4 linked regions of the Homo sapiens genome follow. The protein of the gene in region 1 interacts with the protein of each later gene in a pairwise test. Each region holds a gene or a part of one and is shown on either strand. Other genes may lie near its edges.

What was found.
Region 2: the proteins of KHDC4 (region 1) and QRICH1 interact in binary tests that used the Homo sapiens proteins (3 or more experiments, as listed by UniProt).
Region 3: the proteins of KHDC4 (region 1) and PIDD1 interact in binary tests that used the Homo sapiens proteins (3 or more experiments, as listed by UniProt).
Region 4: the proteins of KHDC4 (region 1) and ZRSR2 interact in binary tests that used the Homo sapiens proteins (3 or more experiments, as listed by UniProt).

The regions. Positions count from the first base shown.
Region 1 is NC_000001.11:155,917,414-155,924,413, reverse strand, and holds part of KHDC4 (KH homology domain-containing protein 4), read left to right. Parts: intron 1-726; coding exon 727-787; intron 788-2,495; coding exon 2,496-2,553; intron 2,554-2,785; coding exon 2,786-3,039; intron 3,040-4,371; exon of another isoform or gene 4,372-4,505; intron 4,506-6,741; coding exon 6,742-6,915; intron 6,916-7,000.
Region 2 is NC_000003.12:49,091,032-49,098,848, reverse strand, and holds the start of QRICH1 (transcriptional regulator QRICH1), read left to right. Parts: upstream 1-4,777; 5' UTR 4,778-4,937; exon of another isoform or gene 4,938-4,955; intron 4,956-5,238; exon of another isoform or gene 5,239-5,901; intron 5,902-6,392; exon of another isoform or gene 6,393-6,452; intron 6,453-7,817. Other genes in the region: QARS1 (glutamine--tRNA ligase), read left to right, coding at 157-249, 369-496, 591-657, 732-857, 2,770-2,820. UniProt on the Homo sapiens protein: Transcriptional regulator that acts as a mediator of the integrated stress response (ISR) through transcriptional control of protein homeostasis under conditions of ER stress.
Region 3 is NC_000011.10:798,666-802,253, forward strand, and holds the end of PIDD1 (p53-induced death domain-containing protein 1), read right to left. Parts: coding exon 3,530-3,588; intron 3,426-3,529; coding exon 3,300-3,425; intron 2,960-3,299; coding exon 2,780-2,959; intron 2,701-2,779; coding exon 2,553-2,700; intron 2,456-2,552; coding exon 2,320-2,455; coding exon of another isoform or gene 2,248-2,319; coding exon 2,097-2,247; intron 2,002-2,096; coding exon 1,878-2,001; intron 1,787-1,877; coding exon 1,668-1,786; intron 1,580-1,667; coding exon 1,466-1,579; intron 1,350-1,465; coding exon 1,150-1,349; intron 901-1,149; coding exon 642-900; 3' UTR 519-641; downstream 1-518. UniProt on the Homo sapiens protein: Component of the DNA damage/stress response pathway that functions downstream of p53/TP53 and can either promote cell survival or apoptosis.
Region 4 is NC_000023.11:15,785,859-15,793,497, forward strand, and holds the start of ZRSR2 (U2 small nuclear ribonucleoprotein auxiliary factor 35 kDa subunit-related protein 2), read left to right. Parts: upstream 1-4,625; 5' UTR 4,626-4,637; coding exon 4,638-4,678; intron 4,679-5,075; coding exon 5,076-5,155; intron 5,156-5,161; exon of another isoform or gene 5,162-7,639. UniProt on the Homo sapiens protein: Pre-mRNA-binding protein required for splicing of both U2- and U12-type introns. Selectively interacts with the 3'-splice site of U2- and U12-type pre-mRNAs and promotes different steps in U2 and U12 intron splicing.

The sequences.
Region 1 (7,000 bases):
AGTGAAATCCCGTTTCTACTAAAAATAAAACAAAAAAATTAGCCAGGCATGGTGGCAGGCGCCTGTAGTGCCAGCAACTCGGGGGCTGAGGCAGGAGAATGACGTGAACCCAGGAGGTGGAGCTTGCAGTGAGCTGAGATCGCGCCACTGCACTCCAGCCTGGGCAACAGAGCAAGATTCTGTCGCCTCCTGCCTCAGCGTCCCAAGTAGCTGGGACTATAGGCACCCGCCAACATGCCCGGCTAATTTTTTGTATTTTTAGTAGAGATGGGGTTTCACCGTGTTAGCCAGGATGGTCTCGATCTCCTGACCTCGTGATCCGCCTGTCTCGGTCTCCCAAAGTGCTGGGATTACAGGCGTGAACCACCACGCCCGGCCAAAAAAAAGCAAATCTTAAAGTGAGCTGTGATAAGTCTGAAATAATTTTCATTTAAACCTATGTCAATATTAATACGTTTTATAGTAATTTTATGAACTTTAAACATTTTTATATCGAGAAGTACCATTACTCAGAGAAAGACTAATAAAATATTTGTGGTAATGATAGTGGTTATATCTTAAAAGACTTATGTTTTGTGTTTCTGTTTTGTGATTTTCAGAGGCCTAGATTTGAGCTACAGTGAATGTATTAATGTAGATATGTAAAATAGCATGGAAAATGAAAGCAGAATTCTGCATCTTTTATTTATTTTTCTCTCCTTTGAATTCCTGGTTATTTCTTTGCAGTCACCCCAAACCAGAAGGCCTGGCTGCTGCCAAGAAGCTTTGTGAGAATCTTTTGCAAACAGTGAGTTGTATTTGTCTGATACTCATTCAGAAGAGCAATTGCCATTTTGGAGTATGTCTTAGCTGTTTCTTTCACCTGTTTAGTTTCCTAGTACTGCTATAACAAGTTATGGCAGTTGGGTGGCTTAAAATAACACAAATTTATTCTATCACAGTCCAGGAAGCAGAGTCTGAAATCAAGGTGCTGGCAGAATTGGTTCCTTCTGGAGTCTTTGAGAGAGAAATCATCCCATGCCTTTCCTCTCTCCTAGCACCTGGTCATTGTGTTGGTTTTCTTTGGCTTGTATTAGCATAACTCCAGTCTGAAGTAAGGGTAGAACTATAATAATTTAAAACCAGTTAGACATGTTTGGGGGATGATTGCTCATTTGATTATGCATTCTTTTTATTCTATAAACAACCAAAAGTTAAACCTTAGGACTGTCTTTTTTTTTTTTTTCTGTCGCCCAGGCTGGAGTGCAGTGGCGGGATCTCGGCTCACTGCAAGCTCCGCCTCCCGGGTTCACGCCATTCTCCTGCCTCAGCCTCCCAAGTAGCTGGGACTACAGGCGCCCGCCACTACGCCCGGCTACTTTTTTGTATTTTTAGTAGAGACGGGGTTTCACCGTTTTAGCCGGGATGGTCTCGATCTCCTGACCTCGTGATCCGCCTGCCTCGGCCTCCCAAAGTGCTGGGATTACAGGCGTGAGCCACCGCGCCCGGCCAGGACTGTCTTTATAGCACTTAGAGGAAATCAGGTTTTGCACTGAATATGTTCAACCTTGTGTTCTCTGGTGCCTTATTGGGTAGCTCATGGTTGGTTTTTTTGTTTGTTTTTTTACTTTTGTACATAGCACCTGATTTACCAACCCTTGTACCGGATAATTTTCTTGACTATTTCCCATCTTTGTTGGTACTTGAGGTTATGGACTTAATAATATATAGGAAGGAAGTATGAGGAAAATACGAAACCCTTACTAAATGTGAGCTCCTTGAGGAAAAGTCACCCAGTAAATGTGAATGAATTGAGGTCTCACCAGTTATACTAACAACTTGGAAATTTCCTAGTTACTTAATTTCTGTGGCTTTCTAAATGATTCTGTACCCCAGAATTGAGTATGGTTTAGGGGATTCAGGATTATTCTCCTAATTCCCAAAATTGGCTTAATAATTTATAGATTTGCCTTATTAAAATGTTGAGGTGGGTTGGACACGGTGGCTCATGCCTGTAATCCCAGCCCTTTGGGAGGCCAAGGCGGGCAGATAATGAGGTCAGGAGTTCGAGACCAGCCTGGCCAACATCGTGAAACCCCCGTCTCTACTAAAAATACAAAAACTAGCTGGGTGCGGTGGCACGCGCCTGTAGTCCCAGCTACTTGGGAGGCTGAAGCAGGAGAATCGCTTAAACCGTGAAGGTGGAGGTTGCAGTGAGCTGAGACCATGCCATTGCATTGTACCCTGGGTGACAGAGTGAGACTGTCTCAAAAAAAAAAAAAAAAAAAAGATTTGCAGTGATACAAGATCGCGCCACTGCACTCCAGCCTGGGTGACAGAGCAAGACTGTCTCAAAAAAAAAAAAAAATGTGGGTTAAACAAGTTTAAATTTGATTGGAACATTGGTAGATATATTTTAATTCCTAATGGCTTTGGTCCTAGAATTATGTAATCAGACCCTTGTAAATGCACAGCTTCGGCTGTCCCATGTTAATTTGTTTCCCCCTCTCTTTCAGGTTCATGCTGAATACTCTAGATTTGTGAATCAGATTAATACTGCTGTACCTTTACCAGGTGTGTACATCTTGAAGTGTTTAAAAAATATTTTGCTAGTGATAGTTATGTGTAACTATGATACTTGAGGCTAGACTGTGCCAGGGCACTATTAATGTTCCCTTTAATTTAGGGTAATTTGGAAAGCCATTCATGCCTCAGTATTTTTCTTCCCTAGATATTAAGTTTAATATTCAGCTAAATTGTCTCATTCTGCTGCAGCTGATTAAACACTTTTTTTCTTCCCCCTCAGGCTATACACAACCCTCTGCTATAAGTAGTGTCCCTCCTCAACCACCATATTATCCATCCAATGGCTATCAGTCTGGTTACCCTGTTGTTCCCCCTCCTCAGCAGCCAGTTCAACCTCCCTACGGAGTACCAAGCATAGTGCCACCAGCTGTTTCATTAGCACCTGGAGTCTTGCCGGCATTACCTACTGGAGTCCCACCTGTGCCAACACAATACCCGATAACACAAGTGCAGCCTCCAGCTAGCACTGGACAGGTAGGATGTCAGGATATGCAACAACATATTACTGAATTTAGGAAAAACTGGGGAAAGAGGGGAAGTAGTGGTATTCCAGAAATAAATCATGTGATGTGGAATGTCTTTTTCCTGCTGTCTTCTGTGTTCCTACCACCAACCTACCTGAATATTTTGGATTAGTGTGTATGTGTGTATGTCATCCTGAAGTTTATATTTTCACAAGTCTTGCACACCAAATAGCTGTTTAAAGTGGGGATGGTGGGCACACTTGCTATAAAGGGTCAGATGGCAAATATTTTAGGCTTTAAGGGCCATACATTCTCTGTCACAACTATCACACTCGGTGGTTGTAGTGCAGAAGCAGCCCGTGGATAATACCTCAATGAATAAGCATAGCTGTTGTACTCCAGTAGAACTTTATTTACAAAACAGGTGGCAGGCCACAGTCATAGTTTGCCATACCCTTGGCCATTGTTTGCCTAACCTTACCTTTGCAGTGTTAACAAAGTCCTCAAGGAGAATGGGGCTACCTTCACCACACCTCTCAGTAATTGGAACTGAGTTAGCATTTCAAATCTTAGAAGGAAACATAATCTCAGCATCTGGGGAGGCCGAGGCAGGATTGCTTTAGCACAGTTTGAGACCAGCCTAGGCAACATAGTGAGACTCCATCTCTACAAAAAAAATTAACTGGACATGGTGGCACATACCTGTATTTCAGCTACTTAAGAGGCTGAGATGGAAGGGTCCCTTGAGCCTAGGAGGTCATGGATGCAGTGAACCAAGATGGTGCCAGTGCACTCCAGCCTCAGTGACAGAGTGAGACTGTCTCAAAAAAAATTTTAAAAAGCAACATTATGTAAGAGATATATAAACTTTTCAAATGTAAGGATTATAAATGCTGGTATGTTTCTTTTATAACTTAAGAAATGTATACTTAAAAAAATTTTTTTTTTGAGACAGAGTCTCGCTCTGTTGCCCAGGCTGGAGTGCAGTGGCGCATCTCAGCTCACTGCAAGCTCCGCCTCCCAGGTTCACGCCATTCTCCTGCCTCAGCCTCCCAAGTAGCTGGGACTACAGGCACCCACCACCACGCCTGGCTAATTTTTTTGTATTTTTAGTAGAGACGGGGTTTCACTGTTAGCCAGGATGATCTCGATCTCCTGACCTCATGATCCAACTGCCTCTGCCTCCCCAAGTCCTGGGATTACAGGTGTGAGCCACCGCACCTGGCCACAATTTCTTAAATCATGAAAGTAGAATTTTAGGAAAAGAGTAGATGTCTGGATAATAATCTGGATGGATTATATATACTGGTCTTGGAGGCAGGGGAGAGACTTAATGAGAGCATGGTAATGGATTTATGGTGGGTCCTTCTCTGTGGGCCTCTCATAGTGTACCCATGCCATAGCAAATGGCAGCCTCGAACCATTGCCCAGTCCCCTTACCTGTGGGCTGTGAGCACTGAAGGGGGTTGCACAGTGTGTAACAAAAAAGCTATGAACTAAATTTTATTTGTGGTCTCTAGTCAAATTTATTTTATTTTATTTATTTATTTTATTTTTGTTTATTATTATTTTTTGAGACAGAATCTCATTCTGTCACCCAGGCTAGAGTGCAGTGGCACCATCTTGGCTCACTGCAAGCTCCGCCTCCCAGGTTCACGCGATTCTCCTGCCTCAGCCTCCCGAGTAGCTGGGACTACAAGCGCCTGCCACCATGCCTGGCTAATTGTTTTGTATTTTTAGTGGAGATGGGGTTTCACCTTGTTAGCCAGGATGGTCTTGATCTCCTAACCTCGTGATCCGCCCACCTCAGACTCCCAAAGTACTGGGATTACAGGCGTGAGCCACCGCGCCCGGCCTAATGTTTGTATTTTTAATAGAGATGGGGTTTCACCATTTTGGCCAGGCTGGTCACAAACTCCTGACCTCAGGTGATCCGCAGCCTCGGACTTCCAAAATGCTAGGATTATGGTGCAAGGATTACAGGCATAAGCCACCGTGCCCAGCCAAAATTATTTTAATTTTTATATTTAGACAGCTCTGTAGGTCTCTACTTTTGAAGGTCAGTCCTTTGTAATTGGGAAGCAATACAGCAGAGTGGTTAAAAGCAGGGAGTTAAGGCAGCCGCAGTGGCTCATGTAGCTGTAATCCCAGCACTTTGGGAGGTTGGGGCGGGTGGATCACTTGAGGTCAGGAGTTCAAGACCAGCCTGGTCAACATGGTGAAACCCTGTCTCTGCTAAAAATACAAAAATTAGCTGGGCGCGGTGGCAGGCATCTGTAATCCCAGCTACTTGGGAGGCTGAGGCAGGAGAATTGCTTGAACCCAGGAGTCAGAGGTTGCAGTGAGCCGAGATTGCATCACTGCACTCCAGCCTGGGTGACAAGCAAAACTCAAAAAAAAAAAAAAAAAAAAACTGGGAGTTAGAATTAGATTGACAGGGTTGATCTTGCTTTCCCATTTTTGAGCTGTGTGATATTGGGATGTAACTTGCCCTGTCTAGGGTTTGGTTTTCCTTAGATGTAAAATGGGCACAGTGATAAAAATCTCAGAGGTTTGCAAGGATTAAGTAAGATGATCCAATCTGTCAGTAAACGTTAGCTGTGTTATTAATACAGTCAGCCACCTTACAACGTTTTAGTCAGTGATAGACTGCACATATGATGCTTGTCCTGTAAAATTATAGTAGCATATTTTTACTGTACCTTTTCTACATTTAGATACACAAATACTTACCATTGTGTTACAGCATTCAGTACAGTAACATGCTATACAGGATTGTAGCCTAGAAGAATAGGCCATATCGTATAGCCTAGGTGTGTAGTAGGCTATTTTCATCTAAGTTTGTATAAGTACACATTTGTTAAATGACAAAATTGCCTTGCAGTGCATTTCTCAAAACATATTCCCACTCAGCGTAGTGGCTCACACCTGTAATCCCAGCACTTTGGGAAGCTGAGACAGATGGATCACAAGTACAAAAAAAAATTAGTTGTGCATGGTGGCACGTGCCTGTAGTCCCTCGGCAGGCTGAGGCAAGAGAATCGCTTGAACCTGGTAGGCAGAGGTTGTAGTGAGCCGAGTTGGCACCATTGCACTCCAGCCTGGGAGACAGAGCAAGACTGAGACTCTGTCTCAAAAACAAGACAAAACAAAACACGTATTACCATTGCTAAGCAATGCATGGCTGTATAGAGTTTTCTCTTCAGACCTGCCTATTCCTCTGTAATATATACTGTCTTCTGATACCCCTTATTCCTTTTTGGAACAACATCTTCAAACATTAGACTTAATCTTGACATAGTAGCTTAGTGATAACTAAGGGAGTGGAAGATGAAATTGCTTCTTCCACAAGCATTAGCAGCATTTATAAATAACAGAAAGCTTATTACAGAAAGCTAATCACATCGACTGTCAGTGGTTGGAGTTCTGTTTGTTAATGGTCATGTTTACTCCTAGTAGCCCAAATGCATAACAGAGTTTTCTTAAAAGTTCAAAGCACTGTATATAGGTTGTCAATTTCATGTTTCCCTAGGATGAAGGTGAGAAGGCTTAGGTGATAATGTTACCAAATTATACATGAAGGAAACTAAGGACCTGAAGATGCAAAATTCATATGATACTTATTGATCCTTAAAGTATATTGTAATCATTGTTTACTTATTCCTTGGGCATTCTCACACTTTTTTTCTTCCTTGGTTTGTTTTGGTCCCAGAGTCCGATGGGTGGTCCTTTTATTCCTGCTGCTCCTGTCAAAACTGCCTTGCCTGCTGGCCCCCAGCCCCAGCCCCAGCCCCAGCCCCCACTCCCAAGTCAGCCCCAGGCACAGAAGAGACGATTCACAGAGGAGCTACCAGATGAACGGGAATCTGGACTGCTTGGATACCAGGTTAAATAAAATACCCTGTTTTCCTATCTTCACCTTATTCTTCTACTATATTCTCCCTTTAAAAAAGATAAATTCACATCATTCT
Region 2 (7,817 bases), on another chromosome or scaffold:
AGTCTGGTACTGGGAACCTTTCATCTCCTCATCTCTGTCAGTCCATCTACTTCCTGCTTCAGATGAACCAATCTTTGCCAGACACGGGGGTAGGGAAGCTTCCCCACTTGTTTGACCCTTGCAGCCTCATGTGTCTACCCCACTTCCTATCTCTAGGAGCCAGAGCCAGGATTTAAGCGCCTGGCTTGGGGCCAGCCTGTGGGCCTGAGGCATACAGGCTACGTCATTGAGCTGCAGCATGTTGTCAAGGTGAGAGCCAGCTGCAGCCTTCCTACTGCAGTGCCTGCTGGGGCCAAGATGTGAGTATAGCCTGCAGTCCTGGTTGTGGTTCCCGGGTCTAATTGCTGCTCCCCTCCCCCCACTTCCAGGGCCCCAGTGGTTGTGTAGAGAGTCTGGAGGTGACCTGCAGACGGGCAGATGCTGGAGAGAAGCCAAAGGCCTTTATTCACTGGGTGTCACAGCCTTTGATGTGTGAGGTTCGCCTCTATGAGCGACTGTGAGTGAACAGAGCTGGGGTGGGGGCAGGTACAAGATGCACATTGCCTGCTATGGCTGCCCAGCTGGGGGTATGACCTTCACTTTGGCTGCAGATTCCAGCACAAGAACCCTGAAGATCCTACTGAGGTGCCTGGTGGATTTTTAAGTGACCTGAACCTGGTAGGTTCATGAGGTTTGGGGTGAGGGAGGTAGGCCTCCCTGGTTGGATGGTTGCCTGAGTTCCCTGCCTGCAGGCATCACTACACGTGGTGGATGCAGCATTAGTGGACTGCTCTGTGGCCCTGGCAAAACCCTTCGACAAGTTCCAGTTTGAGCGTCTTGGATATTTCTCCGTGGATCCAGACAGCCATCAGGGAAAGGTGCTTGACTTTACTCACCTGCCCTCATCTGCAGCAGTGACAGTGGCTGCCGTTCATTGTGCCAAGTGCTCTGCATACATTCCCTTAGTTAATCCTCACCACCTGAGGGAGTTGGTATTCATATTCTACTAGTGAGGAAACTGGCACTGAGGATAACTCCAGGCACAAAATTTTGTATGAAGGCTGCCTTTTTTTTTGAGACAGTCTTGCACTGTCGCCCGGGGCTGGAGTGCAATGGCACCATCTCGGCTCACTGCAACCTCTGCCTCCCAGGTTCAAGTGATTCTCCTGCCTCAGCCTCCCGAGTAGCTGGGATTACAGGCGCCTGCCACCACACCCGGCTAATTTTTTGTATTTTTAGTAGAGATGGGGTTTCACCATGTTGGCCAGGATGGTCTCGAATTCCTGACTTCATGATCTGCCCGCCTCGGCCTCCCAAAGTGCTGGGATCACAGTCATGAGCCACTGCACCCGACCTCTTTTTTTTTTTTAATTATTATTTTTTGAGGCAGGGCATGGTGGCTCACACTTGTAATCCCAGCACTTTGGGAGGCCAAGGCAGGCTGATCACCAGAGGTCAGGGCTTACCACCAGAGGTCAGGAGTTCGAGACCACCCTGGCCAACATGGTGAAACACCCGAAAGATATTATTTTTAATATCTTTCGTTAAGGCAGCTAATAACCTTTCTTTTTATTTATTTTAGAGACGGGGTCTTACTCTTGCCCAGGGTGGTGTGAAGTGGTGCAATCATAGCTCACTGTGGCCTCAAACTACTGGGCTCAAGCTATTCTCCTGCCTTAGCTGAGACTACATGTGCACACTACCATGCCTGGCTAATTTTAAAACTTTTTGTAGAGGCAAGTTCTCACTATGTTGCCCAGGTTGGTCTTGAATTACTGGCTTCAAGCAGTCCTCCTGTCTCAGCCTCCTAGAGTGCTGGGATTATAGGCATGAGCCACTGTGCCCAGCCACCCTGCCATCCTTTTTTTTTTTTTTTTCTTTTTTTGAAACAGTATCTCGCCCTGTTGCCCAGGCTGGAGTACAGTGGCACGATCTCGGCCCACTGCAACCTCCGCCTCCCAGGCTCAAGCCATTCTCCTGCCTCAGCCTTCCAAGTAGCTGGGATTACAGGCACATGCTACCACGCCCGGCAAATTTTTTTTTTTTTTTTTTTTTTTTTTTTTTTTTTTTTGAGACGGAGTCTCACATGTCGCCCAGGCTGGAGTGCAGTGGCACAATCTCGGCTCACTGCAAGCTCTGCCTCCCGGGTTCACGCCATTCTCCCGCCTCAGCCTCCCAAATAGCTGGGACTACAGGCGCCCGCCACCACTCCCAGCTAATTTTTTCTATTTTTTAGTAGAGACGGGGTTTCACCGTGTTAGCCAGGATGGTCTCGATCTCCTGATCTCATGATCCGCCTGCCTCGGCCTCCCAGAGTGCTGGGATTACAGGCGTGAGCCACTGCGCCTGGCCTAATTTTTGTATTTTTAGTAGAGACGGGGTTTTGCCATGTTGGCCAGGCTGGTCTTGAACTCCTGACCTCAGATTATCTGCCTGTCTCAGCCTCCCAAAGTGCTGAGATTACAGGCGTGAGCCACTGCACCAGCCCACCCTGTCTTTCTTACTCCTTAAAGTAGGGGGCAAACATGGTGGTTGTTATAATCCATATAAAACTATACCCTGGACCCCCACGGTGGTTGTTATGGTCCATATAATACTATAGCCTAGAGCCCCATTCAGTCCCTTACCCAAAGTCACAAAGTTATTGAGGACCCGGGCCTCCTGACCCTTAGTCCCTCGGCTTCTTTGGCTTAAGAAGGATGTTAGGGGGAGGTGTCTGTGGTGAAACCTGCCCAGGCCTCCCTGGCCTTGTTCTGGGTTGGTGGTCATCCTTTTCCCTCTGCCCTCCAGCTTGTCTTTAACCGAACTGTCACACTGAAGGAAGACCCAGGAAAGGTGTGAGCTGGAAGCACTGAACCTACCTCATCCTCCTGGAGGGTGTGGCTACCCTCGCCACCCCAAATTCCATGTCAATAAAGAACAGCTAAATTCTCCTAGAGTCTGTGTGTTATCTCTGCACTTCTAGCATCTGAAGGCCCTGAAGACATGCTGGTGGTGGTGGTATGATTGGGGGATGGAGATGTGCCTTTTGCACATTTTGTCTGTGAGAATGGACTTTCCCAGAACAGAGTGGTACTGACAGCTTTGAAAGCACCGGTGCACTTTTTGGTGCTTAAAGGCAGGGGCCTGGGTAGGATTCATACCCTCCGCACCTGGTCTGAGAGAATGGAGGGCCCTGGGGTGTTTGTCCATGGTTAGGACCCCTGTGCCAGAGGGATCTAAAAGGTTTGTTTCTGCTGGTGTGGAGAGGCCTAGCTCCCAGTCTGATCATTCAGCATATAATTTTTTTTTTTTTTTTTTGATACGGAGTTCCACTCTAGCCCAGGCTGGAGTGCAGTGGCTCAATCTTGGCTCACTGCAACCTCTGCCTCCCGGGTTCAAGCGATTCTCGTGCCTCAGCCTCCCAAGTAGCTGGGATTACAGGCGGGCGCCACCACTCCTGAATAATTTTTGTAATTTCAGTAGAGACGGGGTTTTGCCAAATTGGCCAGACTGGTCTGGAACTCCTGACCCCAGGTGATCTGCCCGCCTCGGCCTCCCAAAGTGCTGGGATTGCAGGCGTGAGCCACTGCGCCCAATCAGCCTATAATTCTTTTTTATTTTTGAGACGGAGTCTCACTCTTGTCCCCCAAGCTGCAGTGCAATGGTGTGATCTCAGCTCACTGCAACCTCTGCCTCCCAGGTTCAAGCAGTTTTCCTGCCTCAGCCTCTTAAGTAGCTGGGATCACAGGCATGCACCACCACACTCGGCTAATTTTGTATTTTTAGTAGAGACGGGGTTCACCATGTTGGCCAGGCTGGTCTCAAACTCCTGACCTCAGGTGATTCACCCGCCTCGGTCTCCCAAAGTGTTGGGATTACAGACTTCAGCCACCGTGCCCGGCCCATTCGGCATATAATTTTTGAGTGCCTACTACGTGCCAGGCAAAGTGAGATGGGGCATACGTGCTGTGGTGGCCTTCCAAGTTCACGGGAGGGGAAATGGGTGACCAAGCACTGTATGGGAGCGGTCTCCCTGGGGCCTGTGCAAGACTGGAAGAGGTTCCTGACCCAGCCTGGGCCTCAGAAAACATTACTCTAACGAAGTGACTTCTGAAGGGAATCACGAAAGACTACGGGGAGTTTGCCAGGATAAGAGGAACAAGGGCAAAAGCTCCGAGGCAAAAAGAGTCTACAGCAGGCTGGAAGCCCTCTGGGGGCAGTGTAGGCTGCTGCTGAGGCCCGAGTGTGCCTGCAGCTTTAACGCCTTCCACATTTTCCCTGTATACAAACACTAGGCTACCCGGGGGCCCGCTTTAAGGTGGACCCAACTGCGGAAGGCTGAACTCAGATGGCAGCAGACAGCGGGAGTACCAGATGCTGACTCCTCCAGGAGGTGAGCAACCTAGAGGCTTCCCAGGCAGGGCACGGCTGGGGACGCCAGGCCCAGGACAGAAGTTTGTGGGGTCCACCTTAAGCGAGAGGCCGAGCCTGGCCAGGCCCCGCCCCGCGTGGGCGTGCTCGACCAAAGGAGGCTCTGGCGGGCGACGGAAGGTGGGTCCAAAGAGCTAGCTTGGAGCCCTAGCCTTCCGAGACTCCACTACTAGGCCAAGCCACGGCCCTAGCTCCGCCCCACATGGAGAGGCGTCCATGGGCGGAGCGAGCCGCTCCATACCCTAGGATCCACTATCCGCTCTAGCGGCCAGAAGCGCGGCCACCTTCCCCTGCTGAAGCGTTCACTTTAATTTTGGCCGGTAGGCAGTCCCAGATCTCGCGGGATCCGACGCCCCGATTATCGCGAGAGGAGCAATCGGCTCCTATTGGCTGTGAGGGTTGAATGTAAGATGGCGCCCAGGGAGCTGTGAGGAGAAAACCCTGTCGGTCTTGGAGCGACGACGGCAGAACCAGGGTCCCTGGCGGTGCGGCGGGGCCGGCGGGTGCAGCGGAGGCGGCGGCGGCGGCGGCAGTGACGTCGCCGGGTGAGGGCTCCAGTGCGGGTGGGGATGCGGCGAAGCTGTAGGCCTGAGACGGGGGGCCCACCCCACACAACGGCGGGCGGGGGCGGGCGGGCCACTACCGCTGGGCCCTGGAGAGTTCGGGGCGGCTCCGGAGCCGAAAACGTTCCTGGGCTAGCGCACCCCGCCCTGTGGATGGGGGAGGGGTGGCCCGGGGATTTGGGTGGGCGCGGCGCGAGATGGCGCGCCGGTGCGGGCGCGCGGCTGAGCCTGTTTTTACGCGCGCGCGCTGTGCGGCTCTCGGTGCGCGTGGCCGCCGACGTGCGCGTTCCCGGCCCGGATATCTCTGCTCTAGGAGCTGTGGCCCGTGGGCAACCGCGGCTTTCTGGAGCGCGCGCCCGTGACGACCCCCAGTTTTGGGGCGCGCGCTCTGATATCGGGTGGCGGTGCTGCCTCGAGAGCGCGCAGGAGGCTTCTGCTGAGCAGAGGGCCGGCCGCGGCTCGTTGCGCTGGGAAGGTTGAGGATTGGGTCCTTTCTGGTCTGGTGACGTTCCCGGGCATCCGTGGCCTCGGCCTGGAGAGAAACCAACCAGCTTTGCTGTCTGGCTTGCGGTTCCGCTCCTCTGTGAGGGGGGCGAGATTGCCCGTTCTCCTCGAAGAATGCCGTTACTTGAGGCCCAAGTACGGTGCGGGTGCTTGGGTAGGGTGTTTCTCTGCTTCGGAAACCAAGCCCTCTTGGTTTGAGAGGGCAGTGAGCCCCTTCGGATTTCCTCACCTTGTACTGGGCTTTCTGCCGGGCAGGGAAGGTTAATATTAGAAGGCCCTTGAGTGGTACCTGCTTATCTTTCATTAGAAACTAATACGTCCATAAGCGTAATTCATACACGTCACCTCTGTGCGCTCCGGAAGGGAATTCGCTTATGTGGCCCATGTGAACTCCGAGCTCTAAAATGCCAGTTTAAATCCTTAAACGCAGCTTTTCTTTTGCGTAAGTGGGAGGGGCTTACTTTATTATATTAAAGGCCCACCTTTGCCTCAGCCAAAAAGTTGGCCTTAAACAAAATGGAACAACCTGAGAATCAGTGCTTTACCTTTTTTGAAATTGCAGAAATCCCAGCAGAAATTACTAAAATCTGATAGTGTATCACTGTAAAAGTCACTTTTGGTGTAGGATTTCAGTCCTTTTCAGCTCTTTTTTTGACCCTGCCGCTGTGTTTTGGTGTCAAGGAAGTTCTAGGTTTGTTCTAGAGAAATAGGCACCTCTTTTTTCTAATACAAAACATCTGCTAGTTTGATTTACAGTCTTGCTCAATTAAGCTTAAGGAATAGGAAGCTAAGAGGAAGTAAAATTAGCCATCAAATTTGATAATGGTGGGGTAGTTCTTTCTAATGTACTGTATTGTTTTTAAGAACAAAGTTAAAATTATTAATAAAAAGAGGCTGAGGATGGAAGGAACTTTTTTGTTCTATCTTCTTCAGAATATTAGAAGTCTTAAGAACTCAGGACAAGCAGCAGAAATACATGCAACATGGTGACTGGTGAGTTAAAATTGTTCATATCCTGGAAGTATCTGTGCACAGTTTTTTTTCTGGTAATACTGAAGCATTACAAATCCTGTCAATTCTGGGTGCTGTCTTCCAGAAACTATTAGGTGCTGTAAAATGAAGATGTGGGAGAACGGCATCTTTGAATTCAGCCACAGTTCGCTACTTGCTCAGTTTTCTCCTCTTAGGATATAAGTCAGTGGAACCCGCAGATTTAAGCGTTTGCAGGCTCAGCTTTTAAACGGACCTAAATGGTTCAAAGAAAAGCTGTAAAGTTTTTCTAGGATACACTTAAAATTTTGACTTTTTTTTTTTTTTTGAGACGGAGTCTCACTCTGTCACCCAGGCTGGAGTGCAGGGGTGTGATCTCGGCTCACTGCAACCTCCGCCTCCCTGGTTGAAGCGATTCTCCTGCCTCAGTTTCCCAAGTAACTGGGATTACAGGCATGCAGCACCACACCTGGCTAATTTTTTGTATTTGTAGTATAGACGGGGTTTCACCATGTTGATCAGACTGGTCTCGAACTCCTGACCTCGTGATCCACCCGCCCTCGGCCTCCCAAAGTGCTGGGATTACAGGCGTGAGCCACCGCGCCCGACCAAATTTTGATTAATTTTTTAGGCTTGCTTGTTCTGGGTTATCTTTATTTTTAACTATTAAGCTTGAGATCTTCCTTTTAAATTGGTGTTTATAAATACTTTTTCTCCAAGTTTGTCAACTAAGATTTACTTATTAGATGTCTTCCTTCGGGTCCTCTCTGATGAATTTTTCCTATAACTCTTCGAGAACCTCTGCAGTTCCACATCCTCTCTCCAGCTTATGTTGCCATTTCAAACTAAAGATCAAATAGTGGTTTAATTTTCTTGTAAATTTGAATTGCTCTAGGAAAGTAACCAAAGTCAGGGGCTCTGGATGTGGCTGCCTTTCTTTAAGGCAGCTTCAGAATCAGGGATGTCTTTCCTTACTTTGGATATGCTTTTTTTTTTGGATATGCTTTCTTTTAGTTTAATTAGTTGTGGTTTATACTTCATGTGCCATATTTCTTTCTTGTCTGCTTTTTAAATGGCCACTCTTGATCTGTAAGGGTCTCTGATTTCTGAATTAGCCTTAGAATTAGGTGTTACATGAATACCTGTTCTTTTCTTTTTATTTTTATTATTATTTTTTGAGACGGAGTCTCGCTCTGTTGCCCGGGCTGGAGTGCTGTGGTGCAATCTTGGCTCACTGCAACCTCTGCCTCCTGGGTTCACGCCATTCTCCTGCCTCAGCCTCCGGAGTAGCTGGGACTGCAGGCTCCCGCCACCATGCCTGTCTCATTTTTTGTATTTTTTAGTAGAAACGGGGTTTTACTCTGTTAG
Region 3 (3,588 bases), on another chromosome or scaffold:
GTATCCAAAGCACCCCACTTGGGGCTGGGCGCAGTGGCTCACACCTGCAATCCCAGCACTTTTGGAGGCCGAGGCAGGCGGATCACTTAAGGTCAGGAGTTCGAGACCAGCCTGGCCAACATGGTGAAACCCCGTCTACTAAAAATACAAAAATTAGCCAGCGTGGTGGCAAGTGCCCTAGTCCCAGCTACTTGAGAGGGTGACGCAGAATCGCTTGAACCTGGGAGGCAGAGGTTGCAGTGAGCTGAGATCATGCCACTGCACTCCAGCCTGGGTGACAGAAACTCCATTTAAAAAAAAAAAAAAAGTAGCCCATGTGGGTTACTTTGTAGCACAGCTCCTCCCTCCCAGGAAGATGAGGACCCACAGGAGGCCCCAGGCACAGTGGGAGAGGACAGGACCAGGATGTGGGGCACCTGTGCACACAGGCCTCCCTCCCCGCAGGGGCCAGGCCTCTACCCCACCACCCTCCGCCCTCCAACGGCTTCTCCATCCAACAAATAAATCAAGCTCTGAGGTGAAAGAAACAGTGCAGTTTTGTTGCTCACAGGGACCCGTCCCCACACACTGGAGAGACTTGAAGGTGGGGGCTCTGCCCATCCACTGGGGAATATCTGGGCCAGCCTAAAAGTCTGTGGGGCCTAGGCCTGGGCAGGCTCTGGGGGCTGTGGAGCCGAGGAGCCAGGCAGAGCGGGGTCCTTGGGGGCCAAGCCCATGCGTCGGATGCTGTCCTGGTACTTGCGGCGGCCGAGCTCCAAGACTGCGCGCACCTCTTCAGCCACGTCCTGCCGGTCACTCTGCTCCAGGGCCTGCACCAGGAGCCCCACAGCCCCTGGCTGCCCAGCCTGGCGCTCAGCCCAGGAGAAGAGCATGTGACGGATCTGCTCATCCAGATCATCCCTGCAGGCAGAGGATGGGCGACAGAGGGGTCCTGTCCACCTGCCCAGGACCCCCCACCACACTCTGCCTCGGAGTGTGGGGGAGTTCCCGGCTCCTGGGGCCAGGTGCGGCCAGACCTTTCCTTTCCAGCCTGGTGTTTGCCCTTCCCCCACCTCCCCTGGAAGAAACTTCTGTCAGAATCAGGTGGGCCCTCCAGGCAGCCAGGGCTCAGCCCTGGGGCTGGCAGCCAGCGGGCAGTGGGAGCCTCACCGGAACTCGTGCCGGATGCGCTGCACCTCCCGGTAGGACACCCCCAGGTGCAGGGCCACGGCTGGCCAGTCCAGACCCAGACGCCCAGCCACACTCAGCAGGTTGCTCTGCGTCAGAAAGCCGGTCTCGGCATCTCCCAGATTCAAGGGTGCCAAGGAGAGGCCAGCCCCCCGCCGTGGCCCCTCGGACCCTCGAAGTCTCTGTTGGAAGGAAAAAGTGCATTAAGCCCTGGGCTCCACCCCCAACTCCACCATGTCACCCTGGTCACCCCTGGGCCTCGGTCCTGCCCCGCCCCTCTGCTGTCCCTCAGTCCCACCGGCAGCTTGATGGGCAGAGTGGCCATCCACAGGGCGTCTGCGCCCTTCCTCTGCCGGGCAGCCTCAGCCTCCTCGGGCACCCGCACAGGCACCGCGCCACGGTAGAAGGACACCTGAAGGGGCATCGAATGGGGTTCGGAGTTCGGTCCTCTGCCCAAGCGGCCTGGGGGGCCTCTCCCCTCACCCACTCCCCTCGCCCACCTGGCCCCGCACAGCCTGAGCCTCCCGGTCCAGAGTGGTGGTCACGTATACCTCCTTCACATTCTTCAGGTGCGAGTAGAAGACAAAGCAGATTCTGCCCTCCACACAGTCAGGGCGGTCTAGGGGACAGGGGTGGGCTGAGCAAGGAGGGCTCGGGGAGGACGGTAAGGCTCCCCCTCCAGGGCAGGGAGCATCCACCAGCATCCCTACCAGCATCCACGTCGATGCCGCGCTCGAAGGCCGCAAAGAACTCTTCGCCCTCGAACATCTCCACCGTGTCAGAGGGCTCGGGGCCCCGGTACCGCTCCAGCAGCCGCCGAAGGGTGGCGTCCACCTGCGGGGAAGCCCGTGCAGCTCAGGACCCAAAGCTCTGCACCCCACCCCAGCCCTCTGGTCACCACCCTGCTGCCCTCCGGCCCGTGCCCCCACCTTGTTTCGGGGCAGGCACTGCAGCAGGACCTGCTCAGGGTCCCGGCGCCGCTGCAGAGCGATGAGGTTCACACGGTGCAGCCGCAGCCGCTCCCAGGCCTTCCGAGCCAGGCCTCCCACACAGTTCTTGGTGGTGTACCAGAGCCAGTACCTGGGAGAGCTGGGGGTGAGGAGGGCTGTACAGACTGGGGGAGGGGGGCTGAGAAAGCTGGGGGGCACTGACCAGGAGAAGTGTGTGACCTGGAAGCGTGCGTACAGGTGGGTGAGCTCCAGGACCACCTGAGCTGTGATGTCATCCCAGGTGGCTGCAGGAGGGGCCCAGTACAACAGGTGCAGGCGGGAGCGGTCCAGACTGAGGCCTGGGGATGGGAGGGGCAGCGAGCTGAGGCCTCCTGGCCGGAGACCCCCTCCACCCTATGGCCACAGGTCCAGGTATGCCCCATGGCTGCCTCTCACCTGTGATGCCAGAGGGCAGAGGCAGCTGCACGGTGACCGGTTGGAGGAAGCTGGGGGGACCGCTCTGTGACAGGCACAGCAGGGGGCTCACTGCAGCCTCTGGTTCTCCCAGGAGGGCCTGCAGCTCTCGGCCAGCCATGCGCACCACCTGGGGCAGACAGGCCCCCTGAGCACCTGCCTGTGGGCTGAGGCGCGGCCTGCCACCCTCAGTGCTGTCCTGGCCATACCTGCATGGAGACTCGACGAGGCTCCTCAGTGGCCCCAGGGGGGAAGATGACTTTGACCCCAGGATGACCCGAGGAGCACAGCAGTGTCCCCTCCGGTGGCACCAGGCAGGCATTGGACACAGGGCGGGAAACCACAAGGAACCAGGAGAAGTGGGGCACCTGGCAGTGAGCCCAGAGCCGCTGGGATGGGGGAGAGAGGAGGTCACAGGAGCCTGGGTCAGGGCACAGCCAGTCAGGGACACAGGGAGCAGGATCCAGGAGAGACGGGGCGGGGTGGAAGGTGCCAGGGACACAGGGAGCAGGATCCAGGAGGGACGGGGTGGGGTGGAAGTTGCCAGGGACACAGGGAAGCAGGATCCAGGAGGGACGGGGTGGGGTGGAAGGTGCCAGGGACATAGGGAAGCAGGATCCAGGAGGGACGGGGCAGGGTGGAAGGTGCCAGGGTGAGGCTCTGGGCAGAGGTGCACGGCTCAGGGCAGCAGCTCTCCACTCGCCACCGGCAGGCCTGGGTGGCCCTCACCTGGGGTGCCTCTTCCTCCAGGTAGGTCTCCAGGTCACCCCAGCTGTTGTCATTCCGGGTCCTGACCACCACTTCACGGCAGCGCCGGGCCTGCGGTGGGGTGAAGAGCAGCCACAGCCCCACATCCTGCCAGACAAGGATGGTGTGAGCACTGGAGCCATGCCCGGGCCCGCACACTGCCCCTGCCATGCCCTGGCCCACACACTGCCCCCGCCACGCCCTGTCCATGCCTGCTGGAAGGCCACCCCATGGGGCTGCAGCTCCAGCACATGGCTGAGCAGGGCGTCAT
Region 4 (7,639 bases), on another chromosome or scaffold:
TTTTTATTTTTTTTTATTTTTTTTATTTTTTTGAGACAGAGTCGCGCTGTCACCCGGGCTGGAGTGCAGTGGCGCGATCTCGGCTCACTGCAAGCTCCGCCTCCCGGGTTCACGCCATTCTCCTGCCTCAGCCTCCTGAGTAGCTGGGACTACAGGCGCCCGCCACCACACCCGGCTATTTTTTGTATTTTAAGTAGAGACAGGGTTTCACCGTGTTAACCAGGATGGTCTCGATCTGACCTCGTGATCCACCCGTCTTGGCCTCCCAAAGTGCTGGGATTACAGGTGTGAGCCACTGTGCCTGGCCTTCCTAGCTGTCTTGTGAAACGATAAGTCAAAACCCTACTGCAGTGAGTTTTCCAAACTGAAGGGAGAAGCAATGTACAGAATGCCTGACTTGCCCTTACATCTTATACCTGGTGTTCTGGCATGATTATTAACCACACTCTTTTTCACTTTGAACCATGTCCTGGTTTGCATGGCCAGCTTCCCTGCAGAGGTGATAGAAACTGACTTGAGGCAGTTTCTTTCTCCATGCCTTAGTTAGATGACCCTCAAAGGGGCACAGCAGATTTCCCTGGCTACTGATACACCTTAACAAGAAGCTTGTGTTTTTTATGCCCTCAAAAGTGTTTTACTTATACTTTCCTAGACATAAAGGTGGAAAATGGGCCTAAGGTCTGTCAAAGGTCTTGGAAAAGAAGATTGTATTAAAATTGCTGTCCGTCTTCATTAAATAATACTAGATCGATACAATGCTTTCTTTACAGTATTAGTGGTTGGTGAAAGACTTCCTTCCTATTGTTACAGTATATGTATATATCTGTAAAATTAATGAGATATCCTTTAACTTGTAGATTAGAAAGCGACTAAAAACTCATAGGGGATTTACTAAAGAAGCAACAATGGGAAGAAGCAGCCGATCCTCCTCAGTGCACCTTTTTCTGTTGCACAGTACAGTGCACAGTGTGCTGGCATCACCATATAGGGCAAGCTGTGACCGCCTTTCTCCTTTCCCAGGGCTACATGGTGCCAAGCAGGTTCAGTGTACACTGGTTACCAACCTGTCTGATTCCATTGTGACAGAACACACTCACACCCAATACATTACATGAAGCAGATTTATTACTTACAGACAGGAAGCAAGGGACAAAAGAGGCCCTGGCTCCATTGTGAGCCAGTCCCCCAGGGCTCAAGAAAGCTGCCCAGGGCGGGGCTGATGGAGTCTTGATTGTACGTGCCCCACTTGCACCACAGCCTGCCTTGGGTTATATACCATAGGAGCCACATAACTCATTGGGCAAAGCTTTAAAGTACATCCTCCTTCCAGGGGAAAGAGGAACACAACCTCGCTGTCTCAAACAGTTCCCTAAATCAAGATGTTACATTCCCTAGGAGGGACAACAACAAGGCCAACCTGTTTCAGGCAGTTCCTCCATATCAGGATATTGCATTCCCAGTGCATTCTACAGTTATTCTTAAGAACTACAAGCAAGGAAGAAGGGAGAACTGGGTCAGTCCAAGGCCACCTGGAGAACTGTCTTGTACATGGGTTAGGGTAAAGTTGGCTATTCTAAAACTAAGCATCCGCCCAAAAGAAGTCTTGGAAGATGTCTTTCCCTGTTAAATTCAGATGATGGTAATTATAGTTTGGAAGTGGAATTGGCTTTTAGAGTTACTTCCTGTAATGAAATTAACAAGCAATTCAGGCCTATTTCTGAAAATGAATTCAGTGGTTAATTGTTAAAAATAAATGTCTAACTCCTATAAAAGGAAATTTACATTCATTTCTAACTCACTAAAAAATCTATGGCCGGGTGCGGTGGCTCATGCCTGTAATCCCAGCATTTTGGGAGGCCGAGGCGGGCAGATTACCGGAGGTCAAGAGTTCGAGAACAGCCTGGCCAATATGGTGAAACCCCGTCTCTACTAAAAAATACAAAAATTAGCCAGGTGGTTGTGGCATGCACCTGTAATCCCAGCTACGCAGGAGGCTGAGGCAGAAGAATCGCTTGAGCCCAGGAGGCGGAGGTTGCAGTGAGCCGAGATTTCTTAGAAGGAATTGTTACTTATTGTTCTGAAGTGAAAGTCTGGTCTGATTCAGAAGAAATGTTACAACAACTTAAACACTGATGCTTTCAGAACGGGCAGCAATTCTCAGCGTAAATTCTGATCACAGGGACCAGCAAAATTGGTGAGTTGCATAGCTACAACATTCTGTGCCATCCAGGGCACTCTAGTTTGGGGATACAACTGCCAAACCTCCAACTAGAGAGTTTAGTTTAAGATTTAGTCAAGAAGCAGAAAGGTAAAGGTGACAATGTGTAGTAAACCATGATAGATGTTATAAAAGGTGGAATACTTGTACTGGAAATGCATACAGCGCCTCATCCCCTCTTGAGGGGTCAGGAAGTTTTCACACTAATGATGATGGTGATGAGATGATGTAACAGCTAAAGTTTTGGAGGCATTCACTATTGCTAGGCACTGTATCAGCATATAACATGGCTTATCTTACTCAGTTTTCACAATAAAAGGGTTATGAGATGGGAACTATTATTACTATCTTGATTTTTACAAATGAGAAAACAGGAGTAGACATTAAGGAATTTACTCAAGATCACAGCCAACCAATGCACTGAGCTGGACAAGGTCAACTTGGGGGTGAAGGGCATATGTGTTGCTCCAAGTGTGTCAGTATAAGAGAGATTAGGGTGAGGTTTTATGCAGAGTTTGGGCTTCAGCTGAGTAATTCTAAGGAGGGATTAGGGGAAGGAAGGCAGTTTAGTAATTGAGTATCTCAGAAACTTTAATTTGGAGGAGAACGGAACAAAGGTAGGCCAAGGAAGCTATTCAATCACTCAAAAGATAGAGGTTATTAGTCATTTTACAGCTGTAATGCATCCTTGTGAGGAACATTTTTTGCTTGGCCTTGTCCCTGGCCTTGTATGTGTACATTACAGTCTGATTATTAGTTGGGATGATTTTTAGTTTCTCAATCCCTACTCTCATTGCCCCAGTTTAATTCCTCAACACCTCTCACCTAGATTATTGTGATACTCTAGTTTTATCTTTTAAATCCTTTATATTGCAAAGCAGAGTGATTTACCTAAAACACAAACACAACCACAATAAGCCTCTATTTAAAAAGCTTTCAACGGTTCACTGTTGTCTCTACAGAATGTAAACAGAGCGTCTTAACATGGCACACCAGGCCCTCCTTAACCTAGCCCTCCCAGCCCATCACAACAACTATATTCCTTGATATTCTCGAATTGCACTTTATTTTGTTTTGTTTTTTTGAGACGGAGCCTTGCTCTGTTGCCCAGGCTGGAGGGCAGTGGTGCCATCTCGGCTCACTGCGGCCGCCACCTCCTGGGTTCAAGCAGTTCTCCTGTTTCAGCCTCCAGAGTAGCTGGGACTACAGGCATGTGCCACCACACCCGGCTAATTTTGTATTTTTAGTAGAGACGGGGTTTCACCATGTTGGCCAGGCTGACGAACTCCTGACCTCAGGTGATCCACCCGCCTAGGCCTCCCAAAGTGCTGGGATTACAGGCGTGAGCCGCTGCACCCAGCCTCGAACTGCACTTTAAATTGGATAGCTGGGCGGGCGTGGTGGCTCGCGCCTGTATTCCCAGCTACTCGGGAGGCTGAGGTGGAAGGATTGCTTGACCCCAGGAGGTCGAAGCTGCAGCGAGTCGTGATTGCGCCACTGCACTCCAACCTGGGTGAAAGACAAGACCCTGTCTCTAATATATAAGAAATGAATAAATAAATAAATTCGATTGCCAAAATTCTTGCTGTTCCCAGCATATTCCACTTTCACCTTTCAGCGCCTTTGCTTATGCTGATCTGACTGTAACTGCATTCCCACCCTTCTCCTTCTGGGTAAAGGGCATCTTCTTTCCAAACTCAACTCTTAGCATCAGAAAGCTGTCCCTGATACTGCAGTTGAGTCGCATGTGATACTGAAAAAAAAAGAAAAAAGGAAAAAAAAGAGAGCTCTCCCTGAATCCCTTGGTGGACTATGTTAGGTAAACTTCATCTTTGCCTGCATCATATTATGTATTGGTTCTTCTCTGCCCCCTCGATTGTAAACTCCTCAGGGGCAGAGGTAACAGCTTTGCAGCCCTGGGAGTTAGGTTTGCTTAAGGGACCAGAACAGGTGTGACTGGCAGGGAGCGAAGTCTGGAGCTTTGTCTGAGGCGCTGATAGGTGGATCGGCGGAAGGACGCGGAACCTGGACAGGTCGGAAATAAAGCCGGGCGAGCAGCTCTGTGCGCGATGTGACTTCATGAGTGGATGCTGAGAAAAGCGGCAGAGTACGACTTTAACCGCCTAGCCACAACACGTCCTGCTAGGGCGAGGAGGGAGACAGTGATACAGCACTGGGCAAGTGCTGAAGCGACAATTACTTCTAGGGCGGGGTAAAAGCCCCAGAGTATTTTTGCTGGAAGGAGGTATTTATTTGAGCAGGGTTCTGGAAGACGAGCCGCCGAAGGGTACCTCCGGCTTTCCGTTTCAAGTCCCACGCTGGTGGAGGTTGCTCGGTACCCGCGCCTGCGCGTGCCCGTCTCGACTCTTAGGCCCGCCCTTTCCTGCCAGACCTGGAGGGGCGGGGCGGTGCCGGCAAGATGGCTGCGCCCGAGAAGATGACGTTTCCCGAGAAACCAAGGTAAGCGCCGTACGGGGAGATGAGCAGGCGAGCGGGCCGATCGTGGGCATGGAGGATGTGGTGGCAGGAAGAAAAGAGAAGCTGGGCCAAGCTAAGTGAGCCACCGCGGCAGCTCCATTCCTTCCTGGTGCGCGCTCTGGTGCCCTCCCCGGACTTGCACGGGCGGCTGTGGCTCAGGCAAGCGAGGAGAGGATCAGGTTGGCGGATGGAGAAGAACTGTCTGGGAGTGGGAGGATGAGGCGATGATAGATGGCTGTTCTGTAATTAAAATACAGGAAGCAAGGTTTCTCTCCTCAGCACCCGAACTATTTCCTTTCATTGGGCACAGAGGAGCGGGGAGCTCGGGCAGCGCTGCATTGTAGCCGCTGATCGTCGTGTATATGTCTTAATCTTCCAGCCACAAAAAGTACAGGGCCGCCCTGAAGAAGGAGAAACGAAAGAAACGTCGGCAGGAACTTGCTCGACTGAGAGACTCAGGTGATGGACTCTTTATTCTGTTTTCTGTGTTGTGAAATTGCTCTGTCCACTCCAGCCCTAACTTGAAGCCCCAGTGTCAGAAGGAAGTCAAATATTGTGTCGGAGGAAAAATAGCTGTGACTTCTGCCCCCAAGTAGTTATTTAGAAACACATGTCAGAAACAATGTTAACATACTAAAGGCAGGAAGAGGAAGTCTTGGTGAATGATCGCCCACTGATTCTGTGTAACTTATAAAGTATCTAATATTACAGTTGCAAGCTTCATGAATTACAGCAGCTAGCACAGTCCTTGCACACGTAGTAAGTATTCGGTGAATGTTTTTCTTCGTAAAACCAGCAGGAGTTGAAGGTATTAATTAGACGTTTTGCAAGTTTTTCTCAAACTTGACTAATATGAGACCCTTGGTTTACCCAAATTATTATGTTATTCAAATATATATCAACATAATACTAGTTATGAAGCTCATTTATTTATTTTTGAGACAGGGTCTTGTTCTGTTGCCCAGGAGGGATGTGCACAACCACGGCTCACAGCAGCCTCCACCTCCCAGGCTCAAGCAGTCCTCCCACCTCAGCCTCCCTAGTAGCTGGGACTACAGGCATTCACCACCACACCTGGCTAATTTTTTCTTTTCTTTTCTTTTTTTTTTTTTTTTTTTTTGAGACGGAGTCTCGCTCTGTTGCCCAGGCTGGAGTGCAGTGGCACGATCTTGGCTCACTGCAGCCTCCGCCCCCTGGGTTCAAGCAGTTCTCCTGCTGCAGCCTCCCGAGTAGCTGGGATTACAGGCGTGCGCAACCACACCCGGCTAATTTTTGTATTTTTAGTAGAGATGGGGTGAAACCCCATCATGTTGGCCAGGCTGGTTTCGAACTTCTGACCTCAGGTGATCCACCCACCTCAGCCTCCCAAAGTGCTGGGATTAAAGGCGTGAGCTACCGCCCCTGGCCCACCTGGCTAATTTTTAAAATTTTCGTAGAGACGGGATTTCACTGTGTTGCCTGGGCTGGTCTCGAACTCCTGGCCTCAAGCAATCCTTCCACCTCGGCCTCCCAAAGTGCTGGGATTATAGGCATGAGCCACCACACCTGACCTGAAGCCATTGTTTGACTATAAAACAATATATGGGCTGGGCGCGTGGTGGCTCATGCCTGAAATCCCAGCACTTTGGAAAGCCGAGGCAGATGGATCACCTGAGGTCAGGGGTTCGAGACCTGCCTGGCCAACATGATGAAACCCTGCCTCTACTAAAAATACAAGATTAGCTGGGCTTGGTGGCAGGTGCCTGTAATCCCAGCTACTCAGGAGGCTGAGGCAAGAGGATCAGTTGAACCTGGGAGGCAGAGGTTGCAGTGAGCCGAGATCCTGCCACTGCACTTCAGTTTGGGCAACAGAGTGAGATTCTGTCTCAAAAAACAAACAAACAAATAAAAATACATTTATAAATTATAAAACTAAATGAAATTACACATTCGGTAAAATTTAAATCTACATCAGGTAATGCTAGGGATGATGTGAAACTAATGCTCCTCACAATATGTATATGGCACTGATGGGAGTTTGGAATGCCTCTACTAATGTTGCCTTATAGTTATTTACCACTTTTTCTATGAAATTACTGTAGAACCTTTATTTGTACAGATGGTCATTTGACCTTCACATGGCAAAACCTAACATTTATGTATTAAATCTACCTGCTTAATGCAATAAAATTAGGACTTAGTTATAAAATTATGTAGTAGTTATAAATCCAGATGGGAGCACTGAAATCACACAGTAGTACTGGCTTATAATGATTGTCATCCGCATTATCCAGAATATGCTCATGAAATTATCCTAGACAATTCTTAAAATCCAGAGACCATGGCCTCAAGTAACTAGGATTCTTGGACCTTGAGAAACATAGCCATAGAGGTTTTATTTACCATTGGTGTTCCTGAGTAATTATTTTAGTGTCAGTACTGGGATATTTAGAATGGAAGGAGCAGTGTGTTTAACTGCAACCTGTGTTAGCATTTCTGTCTTATTAGTTGAAAACTCATCCACTAGAGGCAGAACAAAGCATCAGGGATAAAAGGAAAAGTAGAATAGGTTGGAGTTATTGAGGCCCTTATTGTACTTCGTCTCTCCCCCCTTGAAATTTTCAGCTACTTTACTTTGTTCATTTAATCTGTTTTATTCTAAATATTATATATTCTAAATTTGTTTTAACTTCTTTCTCTTTTTCTTTTCCTGCACTAAATCCTATAACAGCTGGTATTTGTATTGTTTTGATTTTTTTTTTCCTTTTTACTTAGCAAAATGTGTTCAGAATGAGCCTCTGTGGAGAGTCAGGCGAGTCATGTCCCATGGTAGTTTAGCCCATTTTAATGGACTAAATCCAGGTCACTGGTCTGTCAAGATTATGTAACTAATGGCATATCCAAGACTAAGCACCTGTCTCTGCACTTCTGCTCCTACTTTTGCCCACTCCAACTCACAATTCT